2 linked regions of the Homo sapiens genome follow. The protein of the gene in region 1 interacts with the protein of each later gene in a pairwise test. Each region holds a gene or a part of one and is shown on either strand. Other genes may lie near its edges.

Region 1 (3,752 bases):
CTATTTGTAAACTAGCTATGTGAAAATAAAGGGCCATATCCTTGGAGTCTAGAATTCTCCTTTCACTAAGTTATCAAAAATTATATTACTTTGACCACACAAAGGTATTTATCTCTGGTTCGTGCAAACACTGAATGTTGGAAGTACCGAGTGATAATTGGAAATAAAAATCTCCAAACGTCTAGTAATAAAAAGACTGATGGGCTAAATTGTGTATTTATTCATACAGAAGATTATTAGCCTGTTAAAAAACAGTGAGATTTTGTATAGCAAGATCACGGGTTTTTTTAATGAAAAAAATATGCATACAGGTGTGTGCACATACCTATATATTTACTTTTTTCCCCCTCTCACTCTGTGCCCAAGCTGGAGTGTAGAAGCACACTCATGGCTCACCGCAGCCTTGACCTCTTGGGCTTAAGCAATCCTCCTACCTTGGCCTCCCTAGTAGCTGGGACTACAGGTGTGTGCCACCATGCCCAGCTCATTGACTTTTATTTAACTTTTTGTTTTTCTAGACACAGGGTCTTGCTCTGTAACCCAGGCCTAAGTTTACTTTTAAACATTGTACATACACACACAGTCTGGAGAAGTATGCCTAACTTTTAGTAGTGGGCTGTCCCGACTGTGAACAACTTCTGCTTTTTACTCCCATGCACGTATTTTAAAACCTGCCGGGCGCAGTGGCTCACAACTGAAATCTAAACGTTTTGTGGGGCTGAGGTGAAAGCACTGCTTGAGGCCAGGAGTTCAAGGCTGCAGCGAACTATGACTGCGCGACTACCCTCCATCTGAGTGACAGAGTGAGAACCCACCTCAAAAACAAAACAAAAACAGCAACAAAAGCCTGTAGTACAAGTATTTGCTTTTATCAGAAGAAAAAGGAAAACAAAAAAGGAGATCCACAGGCTCTGTTTTTTGCTTTTATTATTTCTTTCTCCATTGATTTTCCAGGACTCTTTGCCTTGGCAGAAGTATACTTGAGTAAAGGCAAAAACACGCAATGTATCATGAGCCACAGAAGTGACTTCATTCTGCTGTTCTCCCAGCACTTACCCCAAACACTGTGGCTGACACTGGGGCCTGACTCTCAGATATTTAAACCCAGTACTTCACCACCAAGTATTAGTTATTATCTCATTTAGTTTTGGGCCCTGAGAACCAGGCCTTCAATTACAGGTTGGGCAACCCTATCTGAAACTGAAACCTTCTGAGCACTGACATATTGCCACAAGTAGAAAATTCCACACCTGATGTGTGGAATTAGTGAAAGTTTTGTTTCATGCACAAAATTATAAAAAATATGGTATTAAATTATCTTCAGGTGTATAAGAAACAAATTTCTTGTTTAGATTTGGGCCCCAATCCCAAGATTATCTCATTATGCGTACGAAAATACCGCACAAAATCCAAAAAATGAAACCCTTCTGGTCCCAAGCATTTCAGATAGGGAAAACTCTACATGAACCAAGAGAACATTCGGTCTACAAGCCCAGCTTCAGCTGATTCTTTTTTTTAGGGGGATGGAGTCTTGCGGTCGCCCAGGCTGGAGTGCAGTGGTGCGATCTGGGCTCAGTGCAACCTCCACCTCCTGGGTTCAGGCAATTCTCCTGCCTCAGCCTCCTGAGTAGCTGGGATTACAGGAGCCCGCCACCACACCTGGCTAATTTTTATATTTTTAGTAGAGACGGGGTTTCATCATGTTGGCCAGGCTGGTCTCGAACTCCTGACCTCAGGTGACCAGTCCGCCTCAACCTCCCAAAGTGCTGGCATTACAGGTGTGAGCCACGGCGCCCTGCCTCAGCTGATTCTTTCTTAAGCCAATAGTTGAGTGTTACCAAGTTAAACCATTGAAGGGGAAAGAAAGATAAACAAGACACAGCCCTAGTCCTCATCAATCTGCTCTTGACAGAAGGCAAGATGACATAAATATTAAACCAAGGGGTAAGGAACTATGCCACGGGAGGACAGAGGACCCAAGGAGACGAGTTGCTATTGGTGGGATGGATCAGTTGTCTTTTGAGGAACTAGGTCTCTAAGGCAGACAGATGGGGAAGGGTGGGCGGAGCGAAGTCACAGAGAACCAGGAGAGTAAATCACGTGTTTGGGGCCTGACTAAAGCACAGGGTGTGGGGGATGGGCAAGAGAGATTTCGGTAAGATGGTGAGAGTCATGTCATGTGGAATGTGACTTTTACTGTATAAGCTGCTTTTAAAAGAAATGTTAAAGTGACAATTCTGTTTTTGCCAAGTGCTGTTTATAAGGGATGTTATTTTCTCCAAGTCCAAGCAATAGGAGGCTCAGGCAGTCCTACTTTTTGGACTCCATGTTGGAGTTCAGTGGTGCCATGATAGCTCAGTGCAACCCTGAACTCCTGGGTTCAAATGATCCTCCCGCCTTAGCCTCCCAAGTAGCTAGGAAAACAGGCGTGCCTCGACGCCTAGGTACTTTTTTTTTTTGGCAGTGGATAGAGGCAGCCCAGGCTGGTCTCAAACTCCTAGACTGAAACCATTCTCCTGCCTTGGGTTCCCAAAGTGTTGGGATTACAGGTGAGAGACACTGTGCCCCGCCCCCACCCCCCTTTTTTTTAAGAGAGACTGGGTCTTGCTCTGTCACCCAGGCTGGAGTGCAGTGGTGCAATCATTAGGTCATTGCAGGCTTGAGCTCCTGGGCTCAAGTGATCCCCCTCCTAAAACTCCCAAGTAGCTGGGATCACAGGTGCATGCCATCATGCCTGGCTAATTTCTTTTTGGTGGGGATGGGGGTCTCCCTATGTTGCCCAAGCTGATCTCAACCTCCTGGGGTCAAGTAATCCTTCCGGTTCAGCCTCCCAAGCAGCTGGGACCACAGATGCATGCCACCACACCGGGCCTTTAAAAGTTTTTTTGTAGAGCTGGGTTTTGCTATGTTGCCCAGGCTGGTCTTGAACTCCCAGGCTCATGTGATCCTCCTACCACAGCCCCGAGTCGCCTGGAATTACAGGCACACGCCACTGTGACTGACTCCCAAAAGACTCCTTATTTAAGGACCGCTGACAATCTACAGAGGAAAATGAATAAAGGACAAATACTCCTTCCATCCTCCATTGGAATTCCCAGATACCAAGAAAACAAAACACAGTAGAGAGATCTTGAAAGAAAATGCAAAGCTTCGCTGAAGGCTCCCAGTTCAGAGTGGTTCACAAGTCCAACACACAGACAAGTAAACGAGGCACATTAGCAATGTATTCGTTTTGAAGAAAGCACTTAACATGAAACTTGCTTATGAAATCCTCCATACCTTTGCTAGACCTCTTTGATGTTTTCTTGTTTCCCTCGGAGGTAATTTCAATTTCGTCAGGATTACCACCTTCATCTTCAATTGCCTAAAAAGAAGGGAAAAGTAAAGTTGATCCAAAAAGTCAGCTCACACACTGCTTTCAGAGAGCTCTCAGGTGACAAGGAAACTGTATTTTTAAGATCAAAAAGCTGCTGCCGCCCTCACCACCCAGGACCTGTGGCCCATCCACTCATCTGTTATCTCGCTCTACACTGGAGACCGACTGACGCCACCAGTTCTTAGCTGGGTGGTCCCAGGCAGGTTTACTTAGGTGCTCAGTTTTTGCTTCTTCCTCTGGAACATGCGGCTAATAATAATACAGTACTTACCCTGGAAGGCTGTTGTGAGGACTCTACTAGCCATGAAAAGGAAGCACTCAACAAACAGTAGGCTTATCTGGTTCATCTCCTTCCTAAGCCCAGAAGAACTCAAAA
Region 2 (3,752 bases), on another chromosome or scaffold:
AGACCCTTTAAATGTAACCTTTCAAAAAGGTAAAAACCATTCTTAGTTCAAGCACCATTAAAAAAATAAGACCACAGGCTATAGCTTGCTGACTCACGATTTAGGCTATTCTCTCATCTTGTCCACAGCATATGATAAAGAAAAAACTGATATACAAGAGACCAAAACACGTGAGAAATAAATACATACCTTATCTTTTAATAAAATTTCATAAGTTGTTAACAATATATTAAATTTTAACCGTTTGGTCTGATGATGCGTCCATTCATGAGTTCTTATCTATTAAGAAATTTGAAGGACAATTTTTAAGACAAACATCAAGCAAATTATACTTTTACTTACATATCTAAAAATTAAAATCCATTCAAATATGTAAGTAACTATTAATATATGTTTATGTAATAAAAGAGTTTTTGTGGTTTTTTTTTTTTGAGACAGAGTTTTGCTCTTGTTGTCCAGGGTGGAGTGCAATGGCGTGATCTCGGCTCACCACAACCTCCACCTCCCGGGTTCAAGTGATCCTCCTGCCTCAGCCTCCCGAGTAGCTAGGATTACAGGAATGCACCACCACGCCCAGCTAATTTTGTATTTTTAGTAGAGACAGGGTATCTCCATGTTGGTCAGACTGGTCTCGAACTCCCAGCCTCAGATGATCCACCTACCTTGGCCTCCCAAAGCGCTGGGATTACAGGCATGAGCCGGCATGCCCGGCCAGAGTTATTCTTTATATAGTCCAAAATGCTATGTAAATCTTATAAATAAAACATAAATACCACAGCATTTCTTAAAAAACGAAGTAAACACAATTTTAAAGCACATCTTTCACAAACGAAAAGGTCTTATTTAAGAAAACATAAGTGATTAATTCATTTAATAATGTAATGTTTATGGATGAAATATGATGTCTGGGGTTTGCTTCACAGTAACTAGGAAAGTCGTGTGTAGAGGTATAGACAAAACAAAACTAGCAGTAAATTTGTGAAACTTAAGAACATGAGTGTTTATTACATTCTTCTGTCTGTTCTCATGCATATTTGAAATTTTCCATTAAAAATGTAAAATAGGCTGGTATGGTGGCTCACGCCTGTAAATCCCAGCACTTTGGGAGGCCAAGGCAGGTGGATCACTTGAGGTCAGGAGTTTGAGACCAGCCTGGGCAACATAGTGAAACCCCATCTCTACTAAAAATATGAAAATTAGCCGGGCCTGGTGGCAGGCGCTTGTAATGCCAGCTACTTGGAAGGGTGAGGCAGAAGAATCACTTGAACCTGGGAGGTGGAGGTTGCAATGAGCCGAGATCACACCACTGTACTCCAGTCTGGATGACAGAGTGAAAACAAAAAAAAAAAAACCCACCAAAAAAACAGTCAAATATATATACTAAGTAACACTAAACCAAAACTGACTTTGTTACAGTCAATTAAACATGTACTGAGAACTTATTTGTGGCAAGTTCTATACCAGAAACAAAGACTGTTATACAGACCAAAACAAAACAAAACCTCTCATCCTTGTTAGGCCAAGAACGGTGGTTCATGCCTGTAATCTCAGCACTTTGGGAGGCCAAGGGAGGCAGATCACTTGAGCTCAGTTCAAGACCAGCCTGGCAACACAGTAAAACCCTGTCTCCACTAAAAAATATAAAAAATTAGCCAGGAGTGGTGGCGTGCTCCTGTGGTCCCAGTTGCAGTGAGCCAAGATCATACCACTGCACTCCAGCCTGGGAGACAGAGTGAAACCCCATCTCAAAACAACAAAAACACTTGATCTCAAAGACAAGTACATTTTGATTTCTACATTTACAGGGAAACAACTTACCATGTTTCTGCTGTTAATGTCACCTAAATAAACCACAGCATTCATTTGAGAAGCCCAAGTCTGAATTTCCCTTTGCCAGGAAGTAAGAGTGGAGAGCGGTACTACCAATAAAAAAGGTCCATATAATTGATGTTCATGAAACAAATAATTCAGAAATGAGATCGTCTGTATTGTTTTTCCAAGGCCCATTTCATCAGCGAGTATGCAACTATTTCCTCTACAAAGTTAAAAAAAAATTAGCATGCAAGGAAATATTCAAATATACAAAGAAACCTTTTTACATCATGTGTATATGTTTTTATGAAGTTAAATAAAATTGATAGGTATTATATAGAATATACCACTTTTATTAACTACAAATAATAAATGTAAAGGTATCTGGCTAAAGACTTAATCACTAATGCTGTAAGAAAAGTAAAAGGAGATGACCGTTTTGGGCCAGAAGAGGCTTAAAGATTAATAGTATTATGTTTAATCAATTATGAAGCCAATAATGCAATTCATCTACTAGTAGTAGAGTCCAGATATATTAAATAAGTAAAAAGTATATAGGAAGAACACAGATTAAAAAAAAAAACTATAGCTAAATTGCAACCGAGATTCACAAAAGTAGAGTGGGGGCCATAGAAGATAGAAAAAAAATGTAGAAGAGTAAATGGATATTAAAATAACTAGGAAAAAGAGAAATATTCCAGGAATAGCATGGGATGAGAACAGATATGCATTTTGATTTTTAAACTGAATAAAAACATATTTTAAAAAGGCAACAATCAAGTTAAACTCCAACTCCACTGGATTTTCTTCCTAGTATGTAGTAAGTATTGTTTATACAAACTAGGAAATACAAAGACTAGCATATAAACTGCCAAAGAGTCTTATTCTTTATGTAAATGGAAATCTTTTCTGAATCCTGTATTGGTAAATTCTTACTCTGTCAAATTAAATAGATGATTCAAAATATACTTACTTGCACCAAGAATGAGCAAGCCAATTTAAACCATTCAGTTGATAATCTCTTAATTCTAAGCCCTCATGTCCTCCAATATAGGATGGCTGCTTCTTCAGGGCTACAAACCTTGGCCTTTGTTTTAATACCTTTAGTAGAAATAAACATTATTATGTAGAGTTATTAAATATAAGAAATTATACTAAAAGATGAAAGCCTCAGCTTTACCATAAATTCTTAAATTTCATCTCTAATCATCAAGCTCAGAGATTCCATTACTCAAAATGTACCTGAGGATTCAGTCAATACTGTTTTCTACTACTCTACAAAAATGAACAGTGAAATATTTTGCCTTCTTTTTTAAACAAAAATGTATAGAGAAAATTAACTTCCTGCCAAAATATGAGTCTCATGTATTTCACAAGCAAAACCTACGTTAAATTGTTCAAAACCATCACTCCAGCCTTAAGCTACAAACCATAAAACTGGCTTAGCTTACCGTTCAATTTCTGAATTCCAAGTTATCCCTATGAAGAATGTAATTCTTGTAATAAGGAAAGAAAGTCTAGTAGTCCATAGATCTCAACACATCACTAGTAACTCTGGGTAAGTTACAAGGATGCAGAAAGTATTGTGCAAGGTAGTTCTGGATACTTTCCTATATCACTCTCCTTTTTCTCTACCTTCTAAGAAAATATCCACTATCTTTAAAATTGAGCATATCTCTAGTTTCCAAGGGTTTTTTTCTGTTTATTCTCCCAACCCTTCCTGACAATCACCATAACCAACTCATCTTTCTGACATAGTGATGCTCAACAAGATAAAAGACAACACTTAAGAAGATACATTGACGAAAACATCATTTACAATTTTTTTAAGAGAAAGTTTGAAATAAAAAATTATAAAACTAAAACTAAAAAACACACAGCAATTGCAGAAGTTCACTTCCTGTAAGACCTATTAACCAAGAAATATTCTCCCTTAGTCT

Evidence for each region. Proteins that work in one complex are often made in the same cells at the same time.
Region 2: the proteins of SAFB (region 1) and CHD1 interact in a two-hybrid assay, tested with the Homo sapiens proteins (one study listed by BioGRID).

What each region holds. Positions count from the first base shown.
Region 1 is NC_000019.10:5,626,017-5,629,768, reverse strand, and holds part of SAFB (scaffold attachment factor B1), read right to left. Parts: intron 3,365-3,752; coding exon 3,280-3,364; intron 1-3,279. UniProt on the Homo sapiens protein: Binds to scaffold/matrix attachment region (S/MAR) DNA and forms a molecular assembly point to allow the formation of a 'transcriptosomal' complex (consisting of SR proteins and RNA polymerase II) coupling transcription and RNA processing.
Region 2 is NC_000005.10:98,894,408-98,898,159, forward strand, and holds part of CHD1 (chromodomain-helicase-DNA-binding protein 1), read right to left. Parts: intron 2,914-3,752; coding exon 2,786-2,913; intron 2,036-2,785; coding exon 1,819-2,035; intron 280-1,818; coding exon 190-279; intron 1-189. UniProt on the Homo sapiens protein: ATP-dependent chromatin-remodeling factor which functions as substrate recognition component of the transcription regulatory histone acetylation (HAT) complex SAGA. Regulates polymerase II transcription.